4 linked regions of the Homo sapiens genome follow. The protein of the gene in region 3 interacts with the protein of the main gene of each other region in a biochemical or structural test. Each region holds a gene or a part of one and is shown on either strand. Other genes may lie near its edges.

What was found. Proteins that work in one complex are often made in the same cells at the same time.
Region 1: the proteins of PLXNB1 (region 3) and APBA2 interact in a test that uses a peptide from one of them, tested with the Homo sapiens proteins (one large-scale study listed by IntAct).
Region 2: the proteins of PLXNB1 (region 3) and ARHGAP21 interact in a test that uses a peptide from one of them, tested with the Homo sapiens proteins (one large-scale study listed by IntAct).
Region 4: the proteins of PLXNB1 (region 3) and FRMPD2 interact in a test that uses a peptide from one of them, tested with the Homo sapiens proteins (one large-scale study listed by IntAct).

The regions. Positions count from the first base shown.
Region 1 is NC_000015.10:29,098,974-29,102,473, forward strand, and holds part of APBA2 (amyloid-beta A4 precursor protein-binding family A member 2), read left to right. Parts: intron 1-2,625; coding exon 2,626-2,811; intron 2,812-3,500. UniProt on the Homo sapiens protein: Putative function in synaptic vesicle exocytosis by binding to STXBP1, an essential component of the synaptic vesicle exocytotic machinery. May modulate processing of the amyloid-beta precursor protein (APP) and hence formation of APP-beta.
Region 2 is NC_000010.11:24,717,388-24,720,887, reverse strand, and holds part of ARHGAP21 (rho GTPase-activating protein 21), read left to right. Parts: intron 1-3,500. UniProt on the Homo sapiens protein: Functions as a GTPase-activating protein (GAP) for RHOA and CDC42. Downstream partner of ARF1 which may control Golgi apparatus structure and function. Also required for CTNNA1 recruitment to adherens junctions.
Region 3 is NC_000003.12:48,420,087-48,423,586, forward strand, and holds part of PLXNB1 (plexin-B1 precursor), read right to left. Parts: coding exon 3,419-3,500; intron 2,862-3,418; coding exon 2,679-2,861; intron 2,374-2,678; coding exon 2,245-2,373; intron 2,120-2,244; coding exon 2,019-2,119; intron 1,721-2,018; coding exon 1,588-1,720; intron 1,299-1,587; coding exon 1,142-1,298; intron 871-1,141; coding exon 762-870; intron 688-761; coding exon 579-687; intron 172-578; coding exon 1-171. UniProt on the Homo sapiens protein: Receptor for SEMA4D. Plays a role in GABAergic synapse development. Mediates SEMA4A- and SEMA4D-dependent inhibitory synapse development. Plays a role in RHOA activation and subsequent changes of the actin cytoskeleton.
Region 4 is NC_000010.11:48,180,697-48,184,196, reverse strand, and holds part of FRMPD2 (FERM and PDZ domain-containing protein 2), read left to right. Parts: intron 1-3,188; coding exon 3,189-3,394; intron 3,395-3,500.

The sequences.
Region 1 (3,500 bases), on a different chromosome or scaffold from region 3:
AGGGGCGCCCTTCCTCATCCCATGTCTGTCCTGTGTCCAGGCTTGCACCTTGTCCCACTGATCTTTGTGTCCTGCACCCCCCTACCCTGGAACCAGCCCCCTCCTGGAGCCTGGCACTTGGTGAAAACTCAGGGAGACAGGTGCCAGGGCTCAGGCACTGGGCTTGCGACGCTTCACAGACTTTGACTTCATTTTCTGATCTTTTGTGGGCAAACCATCTGGACTAGATCCCCCCACCAACCCTCCGAGCCCCATGCCTCATCACCCACCTGTGCTGGGTGTCCCCAAGACCACCACAGGCTGGGTGGTTTGGAGGACTGACAGGACTCAGTGAGCTCACAGCTGAGATTTATTTCAGCAGATGGCTCCAGAGCAGAATCAGCAAAGCGGATGCAGGCTTCCAGAGCCCTCCCCGCAGTCACACAGGACACACTGAACTCCCTGGCAAGGGGCTGTGACAACAGAGAAGTTGTGTCTACCAGGGAAGCTCATAGACACTCAGCCCAAGGTGTTTACTGGGAGTTGGTCATAGGCACCCTCTGCCTGGCAGCTACCAAAATTCCAGACTCCCAGAGGCAAAAGAGGTGTCCAGCCTAGACCACGTTGTTTGCACAAACGGTTTAGGCAAAAGGAACCATGGTTGTCAGTTCGGGTGCTGGGTACCCTCCTGAGATCCACGTTCCCAGATGCCAGAGAGGGCCAGCCTTGCAGGCGGGCCTTTCTGGGTACAGCTGCTAGGCCTGCCCCAGTACCTCTTCTTGCCAGTGTACATGGAGGGTGCCACACCTGGGGTGGGAGGATGGGCTTGGGGATTGAAGCTGAGCCCCATCCTCATGAGCTGTATAGCCTTAAACAAGTTCCTGAACATCTCTGAACCTCCTAATACCCACAGCCCCAGCTGAAAGAGTAACTCTTCCGCTGGATCCTGTGAAGGAGAGATGAGAAATCTCCTAGGCTGGCCCAGTTCAGGGTTCACTCCACTGGCCCCTTCTCCCTTCCTTTCCTTTCCCTTCTGGATCTTTGGATTCTGGACAGGGCATGCAAATTAAAGCTGTTGGGGCAGAGGAGCTGGAGAGGAGGGAACAGGTGAGAGACTGGGAAGGCCAAAGTAGCCATTCAGAGCAGGAGAGCAGATGCGGCCATGTTGGTAGGCAGCCTCTGTGAGGAGGAGGAGGGATCTGCCATTGATAGGAGCTGGGGAAGGAACATGTTTCTGACACCTGGGGATTGATTCAGGCATTTATGACAGTGACAGAAATCAGGAGATGCTGAAGAGCCACTCCAACTGTTTCCTTTCAGTGTCCCTCCCTGGAAGGTGACTCTTGTGGTTATGAAACAGCCTCATGGCTTTGGCCAGAAAAAAAGTCAGCAGCTGAGACAAAGGTGAAGCAGCATGCACTGCAAAGTGGATTCTGTGAGGAAGAAATGAGGTCCAGAGGTTGCAGAAACACTCGAGTTTCTTTTGTGAACAGAGGACAAAAGCATAAAAGACCAGTTGATTAGTTTTTTTGAGCTTTGTGTGCAGTCTTGTTAGGTAGGGGTTGTGGGCAAGATGCTGGCTGGAGATTCCTGTCCAAGGACAAAAAACCATCAAGAGTCATGGGCCTGCCAGAGGCCGAGGGAATTGAAGTCAGGTGGGCTACCTTGGTGTCTTTTGACCCAGGCCCAGGCTGTTTGGGCTCCCTGGGAAGAGCTCATTGAATGACAAACATTGGCCTTGATGCTTTCCTCTTCTGCACAGCAGGAAGGCCAGGCCAGGCCACTCTTGGGCCCATAGGAGAGCACCTCGTTCAGAAGGGACCCTTCTCCAGAGCCACTGGTGGCCTCTCATCCGGGAATGTATGGGTTTCACTATATGGCAAGCCCCTGCTCCAGCAGAGACAGCCCGAGAGCTCACCTGACATCACGCCTCCCTGGGTTCTGCACAGTCCATTTTGGAAGCTGGGACTGAGATGAGGGCAGAGTGACTTTGACTGTAAATCATTACCCTAAAACGCTCTGTTAATTAGGGCCGTGGTTCTCAACCAGTGTGATTTTTGTCCCTCAGGGGACATTTAGCAATGGCTGGAAATAATTTTCATTCTCACACTTGGGAAGAGGGAGGTGCTACTGGCATCTCCTGGGGAGAGGCTTGGAATGCTCCTAACACCTTGCAGTGCACATGACAGCCCTCCACAATAAAGAATGATCCGGCCCCAAATGTCAGGAGAATCAGGGTTGCGAAACCCGAATAATTGGAGTGCCTTTTTTTTTTTTTTCCTTTCTTTTTTTTTGAGACGGAGTTTTGCTCTTGTTGCCCAGGCTGGAGTGCAGTGGCGCAATCTCGGCTCGATGCAACCTCTGCCTTCACAGTTCAAGCGATTCTCCTGCCTCAGCCTCCTGAGTATCTGGGATTACAGGCACCTGCCACCACGCCCAACTATTTATTTTATATTTTTAGTAGAGATGGGGTTTCACCATGTTTGCCAGGCTGGTCTTGAACTCCTGACCTCAGGTGATCTGCCTGCCTCGGCCTCCCAAAGTGCTAGGATTACAGGCTTGAGCCACCATGCCCAGCCCTGGAGTACTTTTCAATGGATTGTCCCAGTAGTGTTCCCTGACGTGGCACTGTCTCCCTCCCGACAGGAAACCATGATGGACCACGCCTTGCGTACCATCTCCTACATCGCCGACATTGGGAACATTGTAGTGCTGATGGCCAGACGCCGCATGCCCCGGTCAGCCTCTCAGGACTGCATCGAGACCACGCCCGGGGCCCAGGAAGGCAAGAAGCAGTATAAGATGATCTGCCATGTGTTCGAGTCGGAGGATGTAAGTAAGCCCTTGCCAGGGCACTCCCCTCCCAAAGTTCACAGCCCAGGGCGGCTCCAGGATCCAGGCGCTGTGGAAACCACCCTCAGGTGGAAAGCCTCCATGCTGTTACTGATGTTTCCAGTGGATCAGTGATCTTTTGCATACTCTTTGGGTTTGCAAAGATAGTGAATACAGTTTTATTCTACTTCTTGAAATAGGTTCTTCAGGAGCTGTTTATAAATTGAGTTGTGGTTAAATATATGAGGGAGCTATTTGAAGAAATCCCTTTACAAAACATTTTCTCTACTAAAAATGAAGTTAATCTTTGCATAACTTTTGTTATTAAAATGCAAATTTTCGCATGGCCCTGGCATGCTGTATAAAGAAAGCACATCTGCACATGAGGCTTAGTTCTGCCTTTGCGTGTGGTCTTCAGAGGAAGTAAAAAGTGATTCTGAAGTATAAGATACCAAAGACTCAGGAAAAGATCACAAGCCCTTTGGCTCCCTCCTTGGCTGGAGAAGAGTGTTGTTTTTAGCCTGGAGGGGGACAGAGGGGCTGAGGAAGGAGCAGCAGGGCCAAGAGGGGAGCTCAGAGAGGAACTGTCCTTCCTGGAGGCTGATCTTACTCACAGACCAGCAGGGGGCGCTGCTGGTGAGCCAGTTTTGTGGCTGTTGCCAGAGTGAAATTTTAAAATATGATCTATG
Region 2 (3,500 bases), on a different chromosome or scaffold from region 3:
TATCCTTTAAATTTTACTTTTGAGATGCCTATGTTTTCATTGAAGGGTTGAGGATTACTTTAGACAATAACATACCCAAATGAACCCTCATTCACTGTCTCACTTTCTTTTGCACCGGATGTTAAATTTTAACTTCATAGTCCTTGAAACAAGGGCTGGCTCTAAGTGTGTGAGTTTTGGCATTTTAATAAAAATGAATCAGAAGTTAAATTTTGGTTCATAAAGCAAGCGGAGAAACTTGCTTCATGCAGCTTACTTCATGTCGAATTAGAAAGTTTATGCAGAAAACGTTGTGAGGTACAGTGTGCTATTACTGTACAATTTATTAGGCAGAACTGTAGGTTTACATTTAGAATCAGTGTTTTACTTTTTGACATCTGTAAACACCTGCTTGCAGGCAAAAGCATGATTAAGTGGAACACCACAATCCTCTGATCACGGTAAACCATAATAACTCCTTTTGGAAGGCCTACCTGCAACCTGGTGATTGCTTAATGTGTATTGCAGTTACATAATAATATGTATTGTGGTCCTGAAGCCTTATTTGTCATTGTCTTGTGAATACTTTAATTAGCATTGTATTTGCATTCTGTTTGCAAGAACTAATGTTATTTGATTTTTTTTTTTTTTTTTGGTCATTTAAGAGATGTCCTGAAACCAAGAATTTAGACACATCTTGTCCTTGGCTAGCAAGCAGTATTTCCAGTTTGTTGCACACTTGGCTTTTATTAACAATGACAGTTATGTATTTTTTAACGGCTGTGAAATTTGTTTTCATTTGGACCTTACTGCTGGCAGCATGGCTATCTTGTTTTTAAGTTTAGCAATGAAGAAAACACAATATCACCTGTGTTTTGCTTATGTGAAATATATATACAGTATTTAGGTTTGGTATTAAACTACAATATTATTTGACTTTCTAAAGAATAGGTATTTTGCCTAGATTCTATGTGGAAGTGGAAATAAAGGGGATATATGTTGTCAGAAAACATTTTAAAACCTCAGGGTTGGGAGTGAAGAGAACTTGTGTAATTATTGCCTGTATTTAGTTGTGACGTGTTTTAATCTGTGATTGATGCTTCTGATACACATTAAATCTTGTGAATATTTTTTAGTAATAGGGAGTTAGTTGCTAATGAAATACTTTGGGCTGATATTTAGGTTTTTGAACATTGCATTTAATTTTTGTCGTCAATTTTATTAGAAGCACTACATTCCACAGTGGTACTATCACTCTTTAAAAAATTTTAAAAATCAATAATGTGTTTGGATACTACATTTATTATTGTGTTTTTAACTAACAAAGAGATGAGCATGTGTGTCTTAATAGTAATGCTGTTAATCAGCCAAGAAAACCTAACTTTATAGGACAGAAGAAATCAATGTAATGAATTAACAGGAGTCTCTGTTTCATGCTTTATCTAATTAGCCAACTCCACCTTCTCTGAATAAGGCCTTGTGCTTTGTTGAAAAACAATCAGAGATTTCTTGTTCATCTTAAGCATTGCAATTTTATTGTGTTGATATATGATATACATTTAGGCCTCCCCACCCCCAGGATATATTGGAAGCCTCAAAACAAATAAACAGCCCTCTTCAAATAAGAAATTAGGACAGTTCAGTAGAATATGTCTTGGCATTATACAGTAAGGATGGTCCAGATGGTACTCACACGAATTTATATACTTTTATACATCTCAAGGTGTATTTTTAAAACTTGAAATCACTCACTCTGAACCTCTTAAGTGATTTTTGGGGTGTGTGTGTGTGTGTGTGTGTGTGTGTGTGTAGTCCGTGAAGTCTTCTGACACCAATCCTTGAGTAACTTTGCTCACAAAATCACTTTATATAGATTCTTCTGTTGAATCCTCTATGATATTATCACCCCTTTTCATATCCATATAGCTTCATCTTTCAAGGTTTAACTTTTTTTTTAAGCCAAAGAAGAGAAAACTTTCCCTCAGCTTTCTTAACCACATGATTTTTTTTCCATTTCTAACATTTATTTCATTTTTTATCTGTAGTCCATACTCTTGTCCAGTAATAGAATTTTTGTCACTTTATTATTAAACTTTTTACTAATGCAAATGAACTTATTTTTGTTTTGCTTCTTGACCTAGGCTAAGATTATTCTATGACTGAAATGTATTATGGCTGATGAAATACACTTGTTGGTTGATTTTGAAATACTGTAAACAATACAATAAGACATTTTTCTGGGTACGAGTTTGTATGAATCCATGTGTTGACTCTTCCTTCTGGAATGCTGGACAGTTTGCTTTTGCTTTCATCCCAGACTCCCTAGTTCCTTCTCAGGCGCTCTCTCTTCTCCTCCCCTCCTTTCTATCTCCCTCTCTATCTGCCTCTTTTGTAGGGTTTTTCTTCCTCTTCTTGCCCCATTGTTGGTTTTATCCAGAGCCAAGGCCTTTCCATTCCTGTATTCTCTTTCTCACTCCCTGGGTTTTATTTTGCACTCTCCTGTGTGCTGGTGACTCCGTATCTACCCCTCTATCTCAGGCTTTATGGTTGATCTCTAGACCTTTTCAGCCAGTTGCCTATTTACCGAACACTTTTGGGGGATATTCCCCAGGCATTGCAAACTCATCAGATTTCACCGCTACCGCTGACTCTCCCTCTTCCTGTGCACCTTCTTTCGCTGAGTAGCACTACCATCTATTTATTGGTCCAAGTCAAAAACTAGGTCAGCATTCTCACTCTTCCGTCTCGTCATTCCTCATATGCAAAGTCTTGTGGAGTCCACATTCCCAATACCCACTACCCCCACCTGAGTTCAGGTCAGCTGCATCTCACTGATGAACCACAGAAACAGATTCCCTACGGAGTTTCCCAATAACTTAGCCTTGTCCCCTTCCGCAGCTCTGTCCCTACTGTAATCAGAATGATCCTCCTGATGGGCAGATGACCTGAGGTCAGGAGTTGTACACCAGCCTGAGCAACATGGTGAAACCCGGTCCCTACTAAAAATACAAAAATTAGCTGGGCGTGGTGGCGCACACCTGTAGTCCCAACTGTTTGGAGGCTGAGGTATGAGAATCCTTGAACCCGGAAGGCAGAGGTTGCAGGTAGCCAAAATCGCGCCACTGTACTCCAGCTGATCGTTACATTACCTCCTATAAGACAATTTTCTGTCTTCCCATTTCCTTTGAAATAAAATTCAGACCTCTGTGAAGTCTGAAAGGACTTTGGTAATTTGGTCCGCGCTTCTGTCTCACTTGTTACTTCTTTTTGTTCTTCCTAGATTGAACTCCTGTCAGGTCCTTTCTTCTACCCTTCCCTCTACTGTCCCCTGTTCCTCCTCCCTCTGCTCCATGGCTGATTTTTACTCATCATACTGGTCTTTTCTTCAATACTGCTTCCTCAGGAAAGCCTTCCCTGACCCGCAAGACTCTTTCAGTTGCCCCTAGTGTATTCTCTCAAAACACCCTGCACTTTCAGGAATACCAGTTACAAGTTTATCTATATCCCCCTTGGATTGCAGT
Region 3 (3,500 bases):
GAGCAGGGAAGGACTAGCCCCAGGTGAGATGTCCGAAGCTGTGGCTGTGGAGGGAGCCCCAGGCTCCACGGGAAGGGTGTCAGGAGCAGGGGTGGCCAGGGCTTTGGGGGCTGTGGGTGGGGAGGGGCTGGGTCCACCTCTTGCAGGAGGGTCTGGGGAGACAAGCGGGCTCTGAAGGGGGAGGCAGAGGAAGACAGGAAGGGCCACTCAGCAGGCAGGCGCGGGACAGGAGGCAGGCAGGCACAGTGTATGTTAAGAGGAAAGGAGACCAAGGAAAAGAGAAATAAAAACAGCCCATTAATTCTCCACTGGAGAAAACTGCGGGGGAAGGCTCCAGGGGTGTCTGTGCCGAGGTGGGGCATGAAGGCCAGACATCCCCTGCCTCTCAGCTACAAATGCCCTCTCCCAAAACAGGCGGGATGTATCGGCGGCTGTTCTCCAGGGAGTCCGTCACATACAGCGGCTCTGGTGCTCAGGACAGAGCCTCACATAGGCAGACAGACCCCGGGCCATGAGAAAAACTCTCACACTGGGACCCCCAACCCCCCCGGTATGGCCCAGCCCAAAGTCACACTCACCTGATGGCTTGCAACCATGGGCCCAGCATCACACGAGGCCTTGTGGGTGCACAGGTGCTGCCAGACACACCAGTTACACCCCCAGCGGCTGCTCACACAGGCCTGGCACCTGCACAGAGCACAGCCATGGGGCAAGGGTCGCCACAGGGAAGCCCAGGCCTGGGGACAGGGCGAGGAACTCACTGCGCAGATGGGCGGAGTTCAGTGACCGCCACACAGTCATAGAAAGAGAGGGAAGTTTTGGCGATCACAACAGCGCCAAATCTGAGCTCCACGCTCACGGATACGTAGTCTGCAGAGGGGGAGAGAGGGCCAGGGTTAAGCAGCAAGGAGGTGCACTCAGACCCAGAGCCGATATCCTGAGCCCTTGAATGGGGAAGAGGACCCGGGATGAGGGAATACAGTCCAAGGGCACAGAATGGAGGCTTCAGGTGGTTGGGGAGTGGGAGGACCCAGAGAAAGGCATCCATTCATGGCTCTTTGCCTGGATTCACACTTTAACCCCACCGCATCCCCTGAAGCAGGGGCTGGCCCCCACCAGGCTGGCCCATTCTCTCACCCACCGGCTCCTCTCGGCAGCACTGGGGCCTCACTAGGGTCTGGGGAGGGGCACATCACACCAGAACCAGTCAGCAGGGCAGGACTCTGATGTTCCCCAAAGTGGCAGGAATATGACTCCCCTGGCCACAGGGGTGGCAGGTCTGGCACTGATAGGAAAACCTGCCAAGAGAGCCAGGGACACACTGTTGGGGCTAGTGGGCAGCAGACCAGGGCTCACATTTATGGGACACCCAATGTGGGCAGGCACCAGCAATCAACAGCCCTCAGGCCTCCCCAAACACCCTCTGGCCTGAGTTAGAAATAGATGGGGAAACTGAGCTCCTAAAAGAAGTGACTTGTGTGAGGCCATGTGGTATCTGGCATGTCCGACATCAGGATCCAAGATCTCTACCCAGACCTTGATGCCCAGAGCCCTCCCCACCAGGGCCCTGCCTATCTGATCATTCACCTCCCTCGTCTCCTCTCGGCTGATGTTGGCAGGACTCATGGCTGCCACTTGCAGACAGCCCAGCTCAGGCTGGAAGCTCCATAGCCACTGCTCTGGGCCCTGGCCCCTCGAGCACTCAGAACGGCGACTGCACCTGGGCGAGATGACCAGTGTCTATCTGTGACCCTCATGGGCCACTGGGAGTTCATAGGGTAGGGACTCCTACAATCTGGAGGACCTGGGCAGGGCCCTAGAGTGGGCATGATAGAGGCTCCTGTGTCTGCCCTGGCAGGGCACTGATGCCCAGTGCAGAGGATGGGGGTGAGGAATTGGGGTGTCTGGGGATCAGGGGTTGAGAGTCATGGTCTAAGGGTCAGGAATTCTGGACAGGACAATTATGCAGGAGCATTGTGGGCTTGAGGCTGGGGCTGGGATGGGGTCAGAAATCTGACCTGCCAAGGAGCACGCACCACCCACAGTATGGGTCCCTGTGAGCAAGGCAAGATGCACAGTCCAGGTGCTGAGCACAGGAAGCCACAGGAACCTTCAGAAGCTGAGACAGCAAAGAGGACCTGAGGCCAGCAATCCAAACACCAGTGGCTCACCCACAAGTGGGTCCCTGGCCCCACCCAGAGGCCCCTCCCAGCAGCCATGCCCTGGCTTGTGCCTGGCACTCACTGTGCTCTGGGTCATGACATACAGGTGCTCAAAGGTCCCATCAAAGGTGAGGTCTCTGCTCACTGCAGACCCCTGCTGGATGCTCTGTGTGGAGTATGGGTGGCCATCGCTCCCTGGGCCCAAGTAGACCTGGGATCAGAGACCACAGGGTCTGGGACCCAAGTCCATGGCCAGAGGCCCAAAGCCCTCCCCTCCTCCACCCAATCGAAGTAATTTACAAATAGAATTTCCTCCTAGGCAGTCACAGGTCATACCAACTGGCCTAGCGGGGATGGAGGAAAGTCACAGGTAAACACCACCCAGTCCTGGGGAGAGGAGCTCAGGTCATCTCTCCTGGCCCAGGGGTCACAGGGATAGCTTAAACCAGGCTGGGTCCCTAGCAATCTGTTCCCTCCAGACTCTGGGGCAGGGGCCAGTACTTCCTGTGGGCTCACCCTGTGCAGCTGCCCTTGACTATCACCCAGGAAAGCGATGGTGTGTCCATCTTCCATGGTGACTGCCACAGCTGTTAGCTGAATCCCTGGCCACTCCAGAATTGGTGTGGCTTCCAGCGGGACCCGGCTGGCCATGGGGCTGGGCGTGTGGTCTGAGCCACAGGGATAAGCATCCAGGGTGTCCTATAGGCAGCAAGAAGCATCAGGAAGGCCCTCCCTGGATAACCTCCTCGGCCGCATCGTCCCTGGACAACCTCATTCCCTCCCCCAGCCGCTCTGGTAGCTCTCCCTGTACAACTGTGTTTTCTCTGCTGGCCCTCCTGGGACAATCTCATCCCCGCCCCCAGTCTCTCTTCCCTTTTTTATCCATCCTGAGGCTACAGCTCATCAATCCCGACCTCACCTTCCTCTCCTGCTCAAGAACCAAAGGTCTCATTCCATTCTAGGTCCCTGTCCCTACCCAAGAACCCCCAAACACCCTCCCAATCCACCGACACAAGTGCCACCCCTCCAGCATCCTGGTCCAAGCCCATCCAGACACTGCTGCCACCCGCATGCCAGATTTGTGGTAAGGTACCCTTCCACTGCCCAGGCAACATAGGAAGCACTTAATATTTGCTGATCTGATCATCCTCGTGCTACCACCAGCTGCCCTCGGACTCTCTGGGCAGCTCCTTGGCTGCAAATGCTTGGCCAGTGGCCTCAGAGAGGCGGAAAAGTGGGGCAATACTGGAACTCACCACTGGCAGCTGTGCACAGTCAGAATTGACATCATACTCGATGTAGGCCACCTCGGTCCCATCCTCAGCACGACCCTCCCGG
Region 4 (3,500 bases), on a different chromosome or scaffold from region 3:
TCCTATACAAAATTTCTATATTTTGTATAGGTATAGCAATCAGCTGGGGAGGAGACAAGCACTGTTCTTTGTTAATCTTTTGTTTTGGGTTTAGGGCTACATGTGTAGGTTTGTTATTACAGGCAAACTCGTGTCACAGGGGTTGCTATACAGACCATTTCATCACCTAGGTGCTCAGCATAGTGCCCAATAGTTATTTTTCCTGATCCTCTCTCTCCTCCCATCCTCCTCCCTCAAGTAGGCTCTGGTGTGTGTTGTTCCCCTCTTTGTGATCATGGGTTCTCATTATTTAGCTCCCACTTGTAAATGAGAACATGCGGTATTTGATTTTCCTTTTTTTTTTTTGAGATGGAGTCTCACTCTTTCACCCAGGATGGAGTGCAATGGCACGATCTTGGCTTTCTGCAGGCTCCACCTCCTGGGTTCAAGCAATTCTCCTGCCTCAGCCTCCTGAGTAGCTGGGATTACAGGCACGCGCTGCCACACCCGGCTAATTTTTGTATTTTTTAGTAGAGACGGGGTTTCAATATGTTGGCCAGGCTGGTCTGGAACTCCTGAACTCAAGTGATCTGCCCGCCTCAGCCTCCCAAAGTGCTGGGATTACAGGCATGAGCCACTGCACCTGGCCTTTTCTTAAAGCTGAATTTTCGTGGCAAGCTCGCTCTTCTTACTTGATGTGCATGTTCCTGATCAACCTAAAGAGTAAAGTACTTTTTGATGATGCTTTTCTTCATCCTTTAGATAAGAATGAGAGAGCAACAACTGCCTATATTAAAGGAAAATACTATTGTTTTTATCGGGACCAAGCTTGAGGAGCCTGGAGGAAGTAATGGGAGTAGGCTAACATCCCTTCTCCCTAGTTTCCTGAGACCAATGCTGCTTTTTGGTTGGGTGATCCTGTAAACTAACAGCAGACCGCCTGCAAATTCAGGCTCATGATTGCTTCTTCACACTTGAGGGGTGTTGTACAGTTTTCCCTTGTATACAGGAGAACTTCCTGTCACACCAGCCAGCATTTTCTAGGTACTAAATGCAGGCACTGCATTTGCCTTGCCTTCTGAACACTTCTGCATGCATGCTCTCTCACTCTTGTACCTGTACACAGTGCCATGCAGCTCCCCTGTCCAGAAGCTATGGGTGGTGGAAGGTGGCCATGCTGGGGTCTCAGCCCCACACCCTTCATCCTGGGGTTGAAGCCTTCTCAGGGACTGGCCTCAGTACATCTCCAATGCCAGTCTCTGGCTTGCTGTCTGTTGGATTTCCCAGCACCACTGCTCTCCTTTCTGCAGTGGTTCAGCAATCCCTGTGTTTTCTTCCACATCCTCCACTGACAGGAGCAGTCAAACCATCCCATGTGTTGTCAGGAAACACAATGCAGGTGACCAAATCACAATTCAGCATAGTCCAAGGATGGCCTGCTGTGATGGAGGTTGTCAAAAAGCAGTACTCGAGGTCTGCTATTCTCAAACCACAACCTCACATTAGAATTCCAGACAATGAGTTTCCCACAATGGCTGGGAATAAAATGTCCTTTCACTGTGGCACCCCAGCCACCTTTTGGCAATGCTGCCTTCATCATGGTGGGGTTTCCTCATAGCTGGGCCACTGCCAGAGGAAGATGTTTCCTTGGTGATGCTGGCTGGGTCTCCGTGGCAGAGACTTGACTACCATGACTTTCTTCTATCTCTTTAGGCTGCTGTTAAGGCAGCTGGGCTAGATTGGAGATCAGGATCAGACAGATAAAATGTCCATCATGAGCATCTGTCATGGTCTACAATAAATTGAGTTTCCTTTACCAAAAAAGGTCTCCCAGCTCATATGTCTACTAGGCAGGACACCAGTTGCAGCATGGTTTGACTTTTCATTTCAATCGTAAGTCCCATCCTCACCTCTCATGGAGGATGTGGAAGAGAATGAGCCGATGCTTATGACACTGCCAGAAGGACAATGATGACAGAATCTGTGAATGAAAGGGCCAGAAATACAGCATTATGAAACAGTGGCCCTGCCACTCCCTGCTGGATACCTTTAGATTTGAATAACTTCAAATCAAATTCATTAAATCAGATTTATTTAAATTGAATTCATTCAGCATGTGAGTTTGGGCACTTCCCTGAGTGTTAATGAGTCTGTATCAAAAGTAGTAAATCTACTTGTATCCAGGTCTAAAGAAAATCTAACTGTTATTCATTCCTCCCACATATATTTGTGGAGCAGCTAATAATAACATGTTAACAGTAGATACATTTATTGAGGCTCTACCATGTACTAAGCTGTGCGTGTCTGTGTGTGTGTGTGTGTGTGTGTGTATGAGAGCCATATATATATATATATATATGAGGGAATATATATTCTTTCATATATACATATATATTTTTATCTTTCTTAACATATGTAAAATCTTTTCTGTACGTATAATCTCTAAGCCTCACCAACTCTACAATATTATTGATATTGATATTATCTCTACTTTAGATACAGGAAAATTTAGGTTCAGTTATGTTAAGCACCTTGCCCAAGGTTTTTCTACTGATTCACAACCTCACGTTCTTTTCTTTGTTCTATGCCAGGTCACGAGTCAGACACAGGGTGAGCAGGAATCAGTGGCCTAGCTTTCACTCACAGGGGCCTGCAGTTTGGTTATTACCAAGCCTCCCAAAAGGACCTGATACGTTGGTTTTTGGATCACATGGTGGCTGCAGATGTGCTCAGTGGGGTGTCCAGGAGAGGCTGGGTTTAAGACAGTTCCCACATGCTGGCTGTAGCATTTGGGGCAGGACACTTAATAGCTTTGACTCTGTTTTCTCATGTTTGAACTGGGATTACACCTTCCTGGTGGGTTTGCTGAGAAGATGGGAAGATGTCCATATCTTCCTATATGTATATCTAAGGTGCCCATCACATGGCTAGAGCTTAATAAGGGATAGCTGGCCTTATGAACTTCTTTTGAGCCTACGCATTCATAGTTGGGTCACGTAAGCTCTATCTAGGTTTCTAAATCCCATGTAGAATCTTCCCTTTCTCTAATCTAAATGTAACATCTTTCAGGAGGAGCTAAATTCATATTGTACCCGAGCAGCTATAAACGATCACTCTGTCACTGGAGGAAAACGCTGTGCCCACATAGAGATGCCACCAAGAAACCGGCCTTTTTAAGCTGTTGACTTTTTCTTGGCTTGTTTTTATAGGTGTTGGTGGAAATAACCCAGATGAAGAAAAGAATAGCACAGCCAATTCTGGGGTCTCCTCTACAGACATCCTGAGCTTCGGGTACCAGGGAAGTTTGTTGTCACACACACAAGACCAGGACAGAAATACTGAAGAACTAGACATGGCTGGGGTGCAGAGCTTAGTGCCCAGGCTGAGACATCAGCTTTCCTTTCTGCCGTTAAAGGTAATCATCCCTTGGTTTACTTTCTAGATCTGGATGAAAGAGAACAGACTGTGAAGCCCAACAGCCTGGCCCCTAGGCCCTTCCTGTTCTCTGTTTTCCATGTCAG